Regions from separate parts of the Homo sapiens genome. Here regions 1 and 3 are each linked to region 2. Evidence: fine-mapped expression QTL. A gene starts in region 2. Each other region holds a variant in brackets. All regions are shown on one strand. Distances are from middle to middle. Region 1 overlaps FBXW7 (F-box and WD repeat domain containing 7). Region 2 holds the start of FBXW7 (F-box and WD repeat domain containing 7). Region 3 overlaps FBXW7 (F-box and WD repeat domain containing 7).

What was found. PIP is the estimated chance that this variant, and not a neighbour inherited with it, causes the effect. A credible set is the group of variants that fine-mapping cannot tell apart.
Region 1: its variant is the best candidate, but not a certain one, in a credible set for the expression of FBXW7 in whole blood (INTERVAL, PIP 0.72).
Region 3: its variant is the best candidate, but not a certain one, in a credible set for the expression of FBXW7 in whole blood (INTERVAL, PIP 0.67).

Annotation. Positions count from the first base shown.
Region 1 is chr4:152,465,359-152,469,714 of GRCh38, reverse strand. The region is part of intron 2 of FBXW7 (F-box and WD repeat domain containing 7); the gene reads left to right. Among named protein-coding and RNA genes, the nearest start is that of MIR3140, 22 kb to the left of the region's middle. The variant C/T (reference allele first, on the strand shown) is at 1,999.
Region 2 is chr4:152,533,982-152,537,981 of GRCh38, reverse strand. It overlaps FBXW7 (F-box and WD repeat domain containing 7), which reads left to right and starts at 1,890. Exons shown (of 14, transcript NM_001349798.2): 1 at 1,890-2,855; 2 at 2,949-3,041. It overlaps MIR4453HG (MIR4453 host gene), which reads right to left and starts at 1,718. Exons shown (of 1, transcript NR_033797.2): 1 at 1-1,718. It overlaps MIR4453 (microRNA 4453), which reads right to left and starts at 1,554; the gene lies at 1,466-1,554. RefSeq lists enhancers at 1,595-1,954, 1,660-2,195, 3,445-3,544 and a silencer at 2,065-2,854.
Region 3 is chr4:152,358,638-152,362,794 of GRCh38, reverse strand. All of the region lies in intron 4 of FBXW7 (F-box and WD repeat domain containing 7), which reads left to right. Among named protein-coding and RNA genes, the nearest start is that of FBXW7-AS1, 23 kb to the right of the region's middle. The variant A/G (reference allele first, on the strand shown) is at 1,974.

The DNA of each region.
Region 1 (4,356 bases), 68 kb after region 2:
GAGTTCAAGGAAAGAAATGGTTTTAGTGAGCAGGAATGCTAATACTTTATGAATAAAACAGGATTTCCCCTACTTGAGATTTTGTAGTATTTCTTTTTTGTGAAAACACTAATACAGATTTGTTCTTTAGCCATCCATTGCTTGACTCCTCCTTGTATTTAGGTCCTGTTTGCTGCAACATGCCAACATGAACCAAATACTGTGGTCAGGGTCTATGCATTTCCTGTTTAGATTATTCTTTGTTCCAAGCTTAAAATATGAAAAATTTTGTAGGTGTCTGTAGTTAAGAATTTCATAAACTTATGATTTCATAGATAAAGCTTTTACTTTTTTATTTTTGAGTAAAGGTAGGTGAGTCAATCTCAGAATGTATTTTACTTCAACTACATAGTATTTTATACCTGTGTACTATGGTGATTATATAGATATAAAATGATTTGGTTAATCATAATAGATTTTAAAGTTATTAAATATGCTTCAGAATGGGAAAGAAGTGCTGAGACATTGCATAATGAGGTGTCATAGTATAGGCTTTTGGTTGTTTTTAATATAGTCAATAGCAGATTATTAAGGAGGAAATATTTAGTGATAAGCATTGGCTTCTTTTATTATACTTTTTAATGTGTTTGAAACAGCAAATATTTGACCAAATTATTTTTCTTAAATTTTATAGTAACTACAGTAGGTGCCTAAATGTTCAACAGTTATACTGTTCTGTTTACTGTAAATTTGTAATAAATATAAATACTTTTAGGAGCAAATGATGCCACAGAGATCTCTTAAACAGATTTTTACTACTTTAGAAGGTGGTAACTGATTTCTGGAGTTGTATTAAGTACAAAAGAGTAACTTATTGTCATTTTTTTCCCTATTGATGCGTATATTTGAGTTAGAGGGAAGCAGTCGTCTTTGTGTTATATGCTTATCATGTATATTTCATCTTAGCAAATTTATTAATTTTAGTGACAGTTTTATTGAGATGAAATTTATATACCAGGAGATTTCATCTCTAAGTGTACAATTCAGTGATATTTTAATATATTCACCAAGTTATGCAACTACCAGTACTTTGTAATCTTAGGTTACTTTCATCATCCTTCTTCTGGACGCCCTCTATCACCCAGCCCTAGGCAACCACTAATACACTTTCTGTTTGTATAGGTTTGCCTATTCTGGGCATTTTATAAAAACAGAATCATAAAATATTTGTCCTTTTGTGTCTGGCTTCTTTAATTTAGCATGATATTTAAAGCTTCACTCATGTTGTAGCATGTATCAGTGTTTCATTCATTTTTGTGGCTGAATATTTCTTTGTATATCATTTGTGTATTCATCAGTTAATGAGTTGTATCCACTTCTTTTTTTGGCTATTAGGAGCGCTTTTCTGTGAACATTCTTATATAAGTTTTGTGTAGATACGTTTTTGAGTATATATGGATGGGGTGGGATTGCTCGATAATATAGTACCTGTGTGTAACTCTTTGAGGAACTCTCAAAATGGCTGTACCATTTTACAATACCACCAACAATGTATGAGGATTGTAATTTCTCCACGACCTCATAAACACTTATTGTCAGTCTTTTGTATTTCAGCCATTCTAGTAGGTATGAAGTTGTATCCCATTGTGATTTTGATTTGGATAATGACTAATGATAAGCATCATTTCACATGCTTATTGACCATATATCTTCTTTGGAGAAATATCTGTTCAACTCCTTTGCCCATTAAAAAAAAAAAGATTATCTTTTTAATGTTGAATATTGTAAACATTCTTTATATATTCTGGAAACTAGTCCCTTATCACATACATGATTTGCAAATATTTTCTCCTATGGATTATCTCTTTACTTTTATGATGGTGTCCTTTGAAGCAGAAAAGTTTTAATTTTGAAGTTCAGCTGATCTGTTTTTTGTTGCTTGTTCTTTTGGTGTTATATTGCAGATTTGTTTTTAAATAAATACTCACTGATAGCCTGGGTCTATGACAAAGTTTTAAT[C/T]GTCATAGGACTACGAAAAAGCATTGGCATTTCTTGTGTTTGACAGTCAAAGCCCAAAGGAGGCAATTATCCTTGTATTTGTGCTTCAGTTCCTCAGCTAATTGTTTTAAGCAAAACCTTACGTTTTGATCCCATGTGTTACTGTGAAAATATTAGCTGTGTGTGATATGTTTATTGATATTAGTCTTGTGAATTTATGTTTAGTTTTTTTTGGATTGAAGAAGGGAGGGGCCATCCTTAATAGATGTTATTAGTCCGTTCTCACGCTGCTGATAAAGACATATACCCAAGACTGGGTAGTTTATAAAGGAAAGAGGCTTAATTGACTCACAGTTCCTCAGGGCTGGAGAGGCCTCAGGAATCTTACAGTTGTGGCAGAAGAGGAACCAAACACATGGTGACAGCAAGGAGAAGTGCAGAGTGAATCGGGGGAAAAGCCCCTTATAAAACCATCAGATCTTGTGGGAACTCAGTCACTATTATGAGAACAGCATGGAGGTCATCATCCCCATGATTCGATTACCTTGCACTGGGTCCCACCACAACACTTGGGGATTGTGAGAACTGCAATTCAAGATGAGATTTGGGTTTGGACACAGCCAAACCATATCAATAGTTTATTATGACAATTACTGCATATTTTATTTCATAGTTTAAGAAACCATTGCTTTTTAGACTAAGGATTATCAGGTTCTTATCTTTCTTGTGAAGAAGGAATAGATTTTGATAATCTCACTGATTTTAATCTTGTACAGATTATTATTATTATTATTTTGAGACGGAATCTCGCTCTTTCGCTCAGGCCAGAGTGCAGTGGCGCGATCTCAGCTCACTGCCAGCTCTGCCTCCTGGGTTCACGCCATTCTCCTGCCTCAGCCTCCCGAGTAGCTGGGACTACAGGTGCCCGCCACCGCGCCTGGCTAATTTTTTGTATTTTTAGTAGAGATGGCATGTCACCATGTTAGCCAGGATGGTCTCGATCTCCTGACCTCGTGATCCGCCCACCTCGGCCTCCCAAAGTGCTGGGATTACAGGTGTGAGCCACCACGCCCAACCCAGATTATTTTTAAGCAATGATATTTTGGTGTTTTTGTAAACTTATGTATGGAATATGTAAGTTTTTCCTCTATTAAGTAAATGTCTTTAATTTTTTTTTTTTTTTGAAATGGAGTCTCGCTCTGTTGCCCAGGCTGGAGGGCAGTGGCACAATCTTGGCTCACTGCAACCTCTGCCTCCCGGGTTCAAGTGATTCTCATGCCTGAGCCTCCCGAGTAGCTGCGATTACAGGCATGTGCCACCAAACCTGACTAATTTTTGTATTTTTAGAAGAGACGGGGTTTCACCATGTTGGTCAGGCTGGTCTCAAACTCCTGACCTCAGGTGACCACCTGCCTCTGCCTCCCAAAGTGCTGGGATTACAGGCTTGAGCCACTGCGCCCAGCCAGTGTCTTTAATTTTTAAGGTACCAATTTAGTTCCTTATTTTTTATCGTTATGTGACGTTATGTGATCAGTTGAAGGTGTATTTCATGTATTTTGACCTATAATGTTGTCTAGTTTAGTTTCTGGAGAAATGGTGTGTAACAGTGGAATGTCACTTGTCTTCAAAGCATTAGCTTTCTGTGTAAGGTTGAGGTTGTAATATAAATGCGCTAGATGTGTTTTTATTAGGGGAATTGACTATTCTTACCTTTCATGTTATTTGACAGTATTCTTTGTCAACTTCAAATAACGGCCTATTTTGATGAGATTTTATAGTGCTAGGATCACTGATATTCTTGTTAGTTGATTTAAAATCATGGTGTTCATTGGCTAACAGTCACTTGAGTGGCTATTAGATGGGTAATATTGTTCTCTTTTTTTTTTTTTTTTTTGAGAAAGAGTCTCACTCTGTCGCCCAGGCTGGAGTGCAGTGGCATGATCTTGGCTCACTGCAACCTCTGCCTCCTGGGTTCAAGCGATTCTCCTGTGTCAGCCTCCTGAGTAGCTGGGATTATAGGCGCATGCCATCATGCCCGGCTAATTTTTGTATTTTTAGTAGAGATGGGGTCTCACCATGTTGGACAGGCTGGTCTCTAACTCCTGACCTCAGGTATCCACCCACTTTGGCCTCCCAAAGTGCTGGGATTGCAGGCATGAGCCACCGCGCCTGGCCAGATGGGTAATATTGTTCTATACATTGATATTCTTATGGTTTATGTTATAGTATTCATGGAAATTTAGCAATGGAAAAGGAAATGAAAAACTTATTAATGATGTTGTTAAATTTTCAATTGTGATGACAGTAAGGAAAAGACATAATTGAGAGCTACCTCCAATTGTTTATATCAAATGTGGTAATTAAGAGGATTTTGGTGAC
Region 2 (4,000 bases):
TCTTTTCCTTCAAAGCCTACAAAGGTTAAACTCTCTGAGGTGTTTAGCTTCACAAAATCCCCTAAATCTGTGTGTTTTACTCCTTTAATTTCCACCATTCCCCTGTTGTAAGATAGGAAGAGGGGGAAAAACAAAAAATATTTATTTTGTAGCCATGTGAGACCATCACTTGTTGGTCTGATTACCTGTGAGTCTTATTTGGAAGGCTGTAGCAGGGGATTGGTCACGTAAAGACAGAAAAATCCAGGGTAATTTAAGCAGGATATTTAACCTGGCTCTTGGAACTTCAGGTCAAGGGCAGTAGGGTCAGGTGCTAGTCTGTGAGTCTCTCCTTGGTTTTGCCACATCCTCCTTTGCCCCTCTCACCACCTTTCCCGCAGCATTTTAATGAACACGAGCCCTTGGATTTACCCAGTTAAAAGTTTCCTTAGTTTACTGTTTGCAGATGGTAGTGGCAGTAGTGGGAGAAACCCAGAGCTTCCCACATTTGTCTATAATACACTTGCTCCTACCTTACCCCCTCCTCCAGGTGGAAAGACTTGTAAAATCCATTACTACTGCTTCCCAAGGAGGTAGAGTGTACTAGGGTCCAGGGACAGAATTGTGGAATCTGCTTTCATCATTGCTGCTGCTTTAATCTTTTTCTCATACTATTCACTGAAGACAGATTTCTGAGGATTCTGGTCCTTTTATCTTAAATTTGTTTTCCTAGAGAACTACACTTTAAACTTCATGAGTTTCTACTTAACTTTCCTTTCCAGGATAACATCTGTAGGAAAAGCTGCATAATAGTAATAACACTTATTTTAGAAAGAAAATAACCTTTGAGTCAGACCTGAAACAGGCCAACATTTCTTGATGACAACGTACACTGATGAACCAAGACCAGAAGCTCTCGAAAGCTCCAAACCGTAAGAAAGAACCATTCGTAAAAGTGAGGGACTATTAAATTCTTCCCCTGACAGTCAAAAATCCTTCAGCAATCTCCCAGAGGATGGCTCCCTTCCAATCCTCCCTTCCCGCCGCCCTAACAATCTGCGCGAGGATGGGTCCCTTCCCTTGCTCGGCATTTCGTCTCCTTTTCCACTAAAGACTCAGGTTGTGACTCTGTACTCAAGCCGCACCCCTGTTTCCTTTCATGGCTAGGGGGAGGGGAGGAATGTATTACAACTCATTTTTACAATGCACTGCAGTTTACAAAGCGCTTGCACTTCCACCATATCCTCTGAGCTTCACGAGTGCCACGTGAGAGAGGCATTCATTCATTCATTCATTCATCAAACATTTGCTCGGCCCGACCACACGTTATCCAACGCTGGGTCTCACCCCACGCCACGGGAAGGGTGGGGCGCTCTCTCCCTGGAGCAGGTGCAGATCAGGCTGTAGGGTAACTCCTCGATCAGTCCGGCTTTTCGAGGGTCTGTTTGGGGCCAAATGCCTCACCTTCGGGTGGTGCGCGCAGCTGCCTGAAGACGCGGCCTGGGCCTCCTCCTTCCTCCCAAAGGAGCAGTCCCCACCTGCCCCGAAGGAAACCGCTACAGACCAAGCTCTCCAGGCCGCCCTCGGGTCAGGGGTAAGATCGGGCGGCAGCTTAGGCTCGACTCGGCTCCTCCCCTTCCTCTCTTCAGTTCTGACGCGGCCGTAGAGGCGGCAGCGGCGGTGGCGGCTGCGAGTCCCGCGGCCCGAGGCGCACCCACCCGCTCGCCGATCCCCACTTCCTCTTCCCTTGGAGCGTCATCAGAGCGCGCCAGAGGCGCCCAGGGCGGGGTGGCTGGAAGGGGGAAAAAGGCCAGCGGAGGAAGCCTCAGAGCGGAAAGAAGAGGGAGGGGGAAGAGAGCGGTTGCTAGGTGACTTGCGTCATCGGCAGGCGCCGCTCTCCTCCCGCCCCTCTCTCTGGAGTGAGGCGAGAGCCCCGCACAGAGCGAGGGAGACAGCGAGCTGAGCTCCGGGCGCTGCCGCTGCCGCTGCCGCCGCCGCCGCCGCTGAGACTGAGAGCGAAGGAGCATCCGAGAGATCCAGTCCCCCTGCACTGGCCGCCGCCGAGACCTTCGCTCTCACCTGGGCCAGCGGGAGCCGCGGCCGCACTCCTTTCCCCCCCTCACCTTCCCGGCCGGCAGCGGCGGCTGCACACGCCGGAGCCGGAGCCAGAGCCGGAGCCCGAGCCTGAGCCGGAGCCGGCGGCTTGGGGGGCAGGGAGGCGGCTACCACGGGCCGGGAGTGGGTAGCTGCTCCGCGGTGAGAGAACGCTGAGGAGGCGCCAGAGCTTCTGCCTCGTCCCGTGGGGCGTGGGGCGAGACCCCCAAGGTGTAGGGAGGGGGGTCCCAGCCGCAGCGACACATGCGGGAGCCGGGAGCGGGGGCGGCGCCGAGCGGAGCCGGCCGGGTCCCTCGCCTTGCCGCCGACTCGGCCACCCGCCCGGGGCCGTAGCATCTTGCCCCGGAGTGTATGAACCGGGGCCCCAACCAAGCTCGGCAACCACCCCCCGGCCGGGGGGGCGGGGACCCCGATGTGAAGCGGCGGCTGGGGCGGCGGAGAGAACAGGACCGACGCCGCCGTCCTTTCCTCACCTTCCCCCTCCCCTCAGCCCCCTCCGGGGGTCTTCTCCCTTGGCCAGTCGCCGGCCCCCCGGCTCCTTGGCTGGACTCCGGGAGGAGTTCCTAGAGCCCCCCTCCCCCGCCCCAGTCCCGAGGGCGGCGGGGCCGGGGGGGACCCGGGGGGCCGGCCGCAGCCTCCACCCAGAGGAAACTTTACAAAAACAAAATCCGGAGTCTCCCAAACCTGACTGTCCCGGGAGAAGTGGCCCTGGACGGGCAGAAGCCGCAGCCTGAAAAGACCCAGGAAGAGGAAAAGAGGAGGTAAGCGGGGCCGCCGCCTCCCCTCCCCTGGCAGCGCGGAAGAGACCCGGGTTGCCGCCTGGTTTAGCGACACGAGCACCGCTTCTTCCTCAGTACCGCGCCGGAGCCTTCCGCAGCTGCCGCTTCAGTCCGAAGGAGGAAGGGAACCAACCCACTTTCTCGGCGCCGCGGCTCTTTTCTAAAAGTGTGAGTGGCCCCGGGAGAGGGAATTGAGGGGGAGAAAGTGGGAGGATGCCGGCGCTTCCTCCTGGAGTTTTGCTGATGTTCTCCAGTAGTGTTGGGAGTCTATCAATGAGGGAGTCTAGCTTTATTCACGGAGGGGGGAAGGTGTTAGGGAGGCCTGTATTTTGTAACTTTTTAGCTCTTTGTACGAGTAATGCAAGTATGCAGGTTTCTGTCGGAGGAGTCTTTTCTCCAAAGTGAATACTCGCACCTTTCTGGCCAGCAGTTGGCAAAGGGAAATTGAGGAAGCCAGAGCATATGTGCGCACAGAGGCCATCTGTATCTGTAACCTTTTCCTGGTACTGTGGGTGTGTGCGGTGTACTTTTTGTTTCGGGGGTACTCTCATATAGGTTCCCGAATGAGAACTACTTAACCTGTGGACCCCTGAAAGTAAAATTCCTTTTTTAAAAAACAACAACAAACCTGTTTTGAGAGAGGTTCATTTCAGTACCTATTGGTACAGGAGTTAACCTTCTCAGTTACTGGGTCCAATTTCATGTGTGTCAGGAGGACACTGTAACAGATGTCAGTTACTCAGGAACTTGAGTTGTTAGGAATCACAACTTACTTGGGGAAGAGCATTTATCACATTAATCATTTTATAAAAGTTGTGATTTTTTCCCTTTCACCCCCCCCTTTTTTTTTTTAGAGTAACAAATTACAGCACTTTTTTATTTGGTTTGAGGCTTTGCTTTTTTGAATTATCTTTATTTCTGTATCAATTTAGGATACATCTTTGATATTTAAGTCAGGAATGATTTTTTCCTTCCATTATTTTAAAGCTGAAGTTTATAAAACCTTTGACTTGTATTTTAGGTATCTTGTCAGAGTACCAAATTAAAGGTTTATGAAAGTAATTAATATTTCATATACAGACCTTAAGGGTTAAACATAGAGCAGAATTTTATGTAAGAAGACATAG
Region 3 (4,157 bases), 180 kb after region 2:
AGTACAGTGGTGCAATCTTGGCTCACTGCATCCTCTGCCTCCCGGGTTTGAGCAATTCTCTGCCTCAGCCTCCCAAGTAGCTGAGATTACAGGTGCCCACCACCATGCCTGGCTAATTTGTTTTATATTTTCAGTGGAGACGGGGTTTCACCATCTTGGCCAGGTGATGGCCTGGTGAACTTGATCTTGAACTCGTGACCTTATGATCCACCTGCCTCAGCCTCCCAAAGTGCTGGGATTACAGGCATGAGCCACTGCGCCCGGCCCTAAGTTCTTTTTTAATATGCTAAGTTGTCTGTTGTTGGAATGACTTTAAAGGAAAGGTTTAAAATGAAGAAAGGAATATGTGTGTGTCTTCTTTATCATCTCATGAACTAAAAAATACTGGAATTTTAAGATTACACTAAAGTTCAGCATCCTTTTGCTAGCTTTGAATTGATATTCTTTTGGGTAGATTTAGACTATTCCTCATAGGATTTTTTCATATTGTATAATTATGAACATACATTGACTCATAAACTTAGATTTTAAGAAATCTAAGATTTAGCTTTAAAAAGTGGTCTCAATTTACCATGTAGCAGTTCGTAACAGACCACAGCTATATGCACTTGTTCATATCAGGAGCAGTTCTTAATTTTAGTTATAATTCATATTTGTTTAATAGTCATCATTCCATCATTACATACCATGCCTTCATGCAACTGGTGGGAAACTTATGATATTCATTCCACATAAAGGAGTTTTTAGAATCATGTATTAAATGTGATAAGCTTTCTTTTTTCTTTTCTTTTTTCTGTTCTGTTCTGTTCTTTTTTTTTTTTTTTTTTTTGAGATGGAGTCTAGCTCTGTCTCCCAGGCTGGAGTGCAGTGTTGCAATCTCGGCTCACTGCACCCTCCACCTCCCGAGTTCAAGCAATTCTCCTGCCTTAGCCTCCCAAGTAGCTGGGATTACAGGTGCACACCACCATACCCGGCTAATTTTTGTATTTTTAGTAGAGTCGGGGTTTCACTCTTGGCCAGGCTGGTCTCCACCTCAAGTGATCCACCAGCCTTGGTCTCCCAAAATGCTGGGATTACAGGTGTGAGCCACCATGCCTGTCAAAAGTTAGTTTTCAAACATTTGGAGGTCTCAAGTGTTTATAGGTAAATATTTTTTAAATCATGTGCTAAAATAAATTTTAAGAAAGTGAATCTGTAAATAAAATATTTCTATGAGAATGTTGAGAAGATAGCAAAGTGCTTCTAACTATCAGTCTTACAGTTCACTGCACATAAAAGACAAATATACATTCAGATACCTTTTCAAGTTAAGTTGTCTTGAAAATATTTATTGACCTTCAGAGTCTTTTGGAATCTCCTAAACAGGTAGGGAATCATGTAAGTATTTGCTAGTCATAGAATTCTTGATTTTTTTTTAAAGCAAATAATGTAATTTGTTAAAGTATATATATGTATATAGGAAGTACTTTAAAATTTAAATTAATGTTTTAAAAATGAATAGAATCCTCTTTTTAAAATGTAGTGGGGGCCTGATTACTATGTTCTTCCCTACTCACTTGACAGCTATGTCAAACACTTGAATACTTAAAGAACAAGCAAGCTACATAAAAACAAAGAATTGATTAAAGATCACCATGAGGCACACTTTCTAGAGCAAGAATCCAGTGTTATTTTTGTTTCTCACTGGCCTAGCACCAAAACAAAATAGGTACTCAATAAATATTTTTGAATTAGTGAAATCAGTTTGAATTCACAGACTTTGATTCATAACTAGAGTTTTAAAAGATTGGTTCAAGTTATGCCTTGTCATTTTGAATTCTTCTGGAAAATTAGTAAGATGCTTGATGAGAAGAGATGCCTATATTTTAAAAAGTGCAGTAAGTATGAATCTGGACTTTCTGTATCTGCCAGCCAAATGTTGGCTGGCATTTTACTATATTTTATATATATATATATATTTAATATATTTTAAT[A/G]TATTTTTCTAGGCTTTTCTCTATGCATACACAGTGCGCACACACATAAAATATATGCTTGTTTTTTCAAAAGGACCGTACCTTATATTGTGTTATCGAATCTCACATACCTTCTAGTTTTACAGTCACCCTTCCATAGTCACCTAGCTCTGTACCTGATGAACGGTTTCTGAGACTTCAAAATGCTCTATAGTGAAGTCTGTTCTTTAGAAAAGAGGCTTTGAGTCTGGGGGCCAGACAGTAGAGGTGTGGGGAGAAAGGGCTGGGGTAGAACAAGATGAAAATTTTCTTAGTGAGCTATACCTTTTTGAATAGGACAGGTTCTTTCAGTCACATGTTGGCAAGAATCGGTGAATTGTGTACTCACCTGTTGCCCCGAGTAACTTTTCGGATTGTTTTTTCATTAACTTTTTCTGGGAATATACAATTTCAATGAATGTTTTATACACCATTTCCCTGCGCTGTGTATTCAGGAGTACAACTTGCTTGTATGTATGATTTCTAGTGTGAATGCCTGTTCAAACAGAAAGTCCCCTTGTTTGTCAGTGTTTGTAACTAAAATAAAAAGTCAACAGTCTTCACACCCACACAGTAAAGTTCTCCTAGTACAGAAAGACACATAATGCCCTAAGATGGAATGATGAGTCATGACAGGAGGTATTTTGAAGAAATTTAACAATATGTTAAATAACATTTTAACTCTAGTATTAAATGTTTCAGTTAGGAGAAATAATTGTTATCACATGGGTTATCCCCTAATGAACCTTGTAAGACCAGTGATTAGAAGTCTAATAGATGCTGTTAATCCTGCAAGTTAATAATAGTCGTATTTCCATTTACATCTCAGGTCCACAGGTGGTAATTTCCTTCTTCCCTCTCAACACTTATCAAACTTCTGTTTTTTAAACACAGAAGCAAGACCATGTCATTTATGAACTCCCAGACTATTAAAATAACTTCTCCATTTTCTGACTCACTCCACCCAATTTGGCAATTGATATATAGTCCAGTATTGCTTTCTATTTGTTTCTTGTCTTTGTGGGTTTTTTTTGTTTTTTGAGACTGAGTTTTGCTCTTTTTGCCCAGGCTGGAGTGCAACGGCACGATCTCAGCTCACTGCAACCTCTGCCTTCCGGGTTCAAGTGATTCTCTTGCCTCACCTGTCTTCGTGGTTTTTGTTGTTGTTTTGTTTTGTTTTGTTTTGTTTTTGGTAGTTTTTGTTTGTTTGTTTTTGAGACAGAGTCTTGCCTTATCACCCAGGCTGGAGTAGAGTGCTGTGATCATAGCTAACTGCAACCTCAAACGATCCTCCTGCCCCAGCCTCTCAAGTAGCTAGGGCTACAGGTGCACACTACCATGCCCAGGTAATTTTTTTTCATTATTTATAGAAATGGGGTCTTGCTATATTGCCCAGGCTGGTCTTGAACTCGTAGCCTCAAATGATCCTCCTGCCTCGGCCTCCCAAAGCTCTGGGATTATGGGTGTGAGCCACCACACCCAGCCTCATTTCTTATCTTGTCACCTGGATTTTAAGTATCTTGTGGGAGGAAGGTAATTGCAATGTTTTTGTTTGCCCTTGGTAGCATTTCGCAGATATTGGGACATAGGAGGTGACTTATTTCTCAATTGATTGTTTTTTTAACCTAAAATTTTCTCAGTTTCTGTCACCTTTCCCCCATCACCAGGCCTTTGCCTCAGATTTCCCAGATGTAGTAGAAGCATAGTTAATATGGACCTAAAATAACGATTCAATAAACTGAATAATCAAGATTTACTTGTAATTTACATACATACTTTTTGCAAAATATAACACTTTTTTCTTCTTTAACAATGTCTCGTGTTTTAGCTTAACTTGAGCTACCACATATCTAATGGAAATCAGTAAGAATTATTGATCTTGGGACCAGAGACCAAGGTTCTAAATATAGCTAGCTATTTAAGCATGGGCAAGACACTTAATTCTGTACCTACTTTTCCCACCTGTTAAATACAGCTACCATTTCTAGGGTATCTGTTATGTGCTAGGCATTTTCTGTTTCCTCACAGTGACTCTGTAGTTTAGGTGGTAAGGTAGGTGTATATCATTACTGTTTTATAAAAAGAGAAAACAAACTCGTAAAGGTCAAGTAACCACCTAACATTACACTCTGGTAATGGCAAAACTTGCGCTTAAATCCAGGTTTT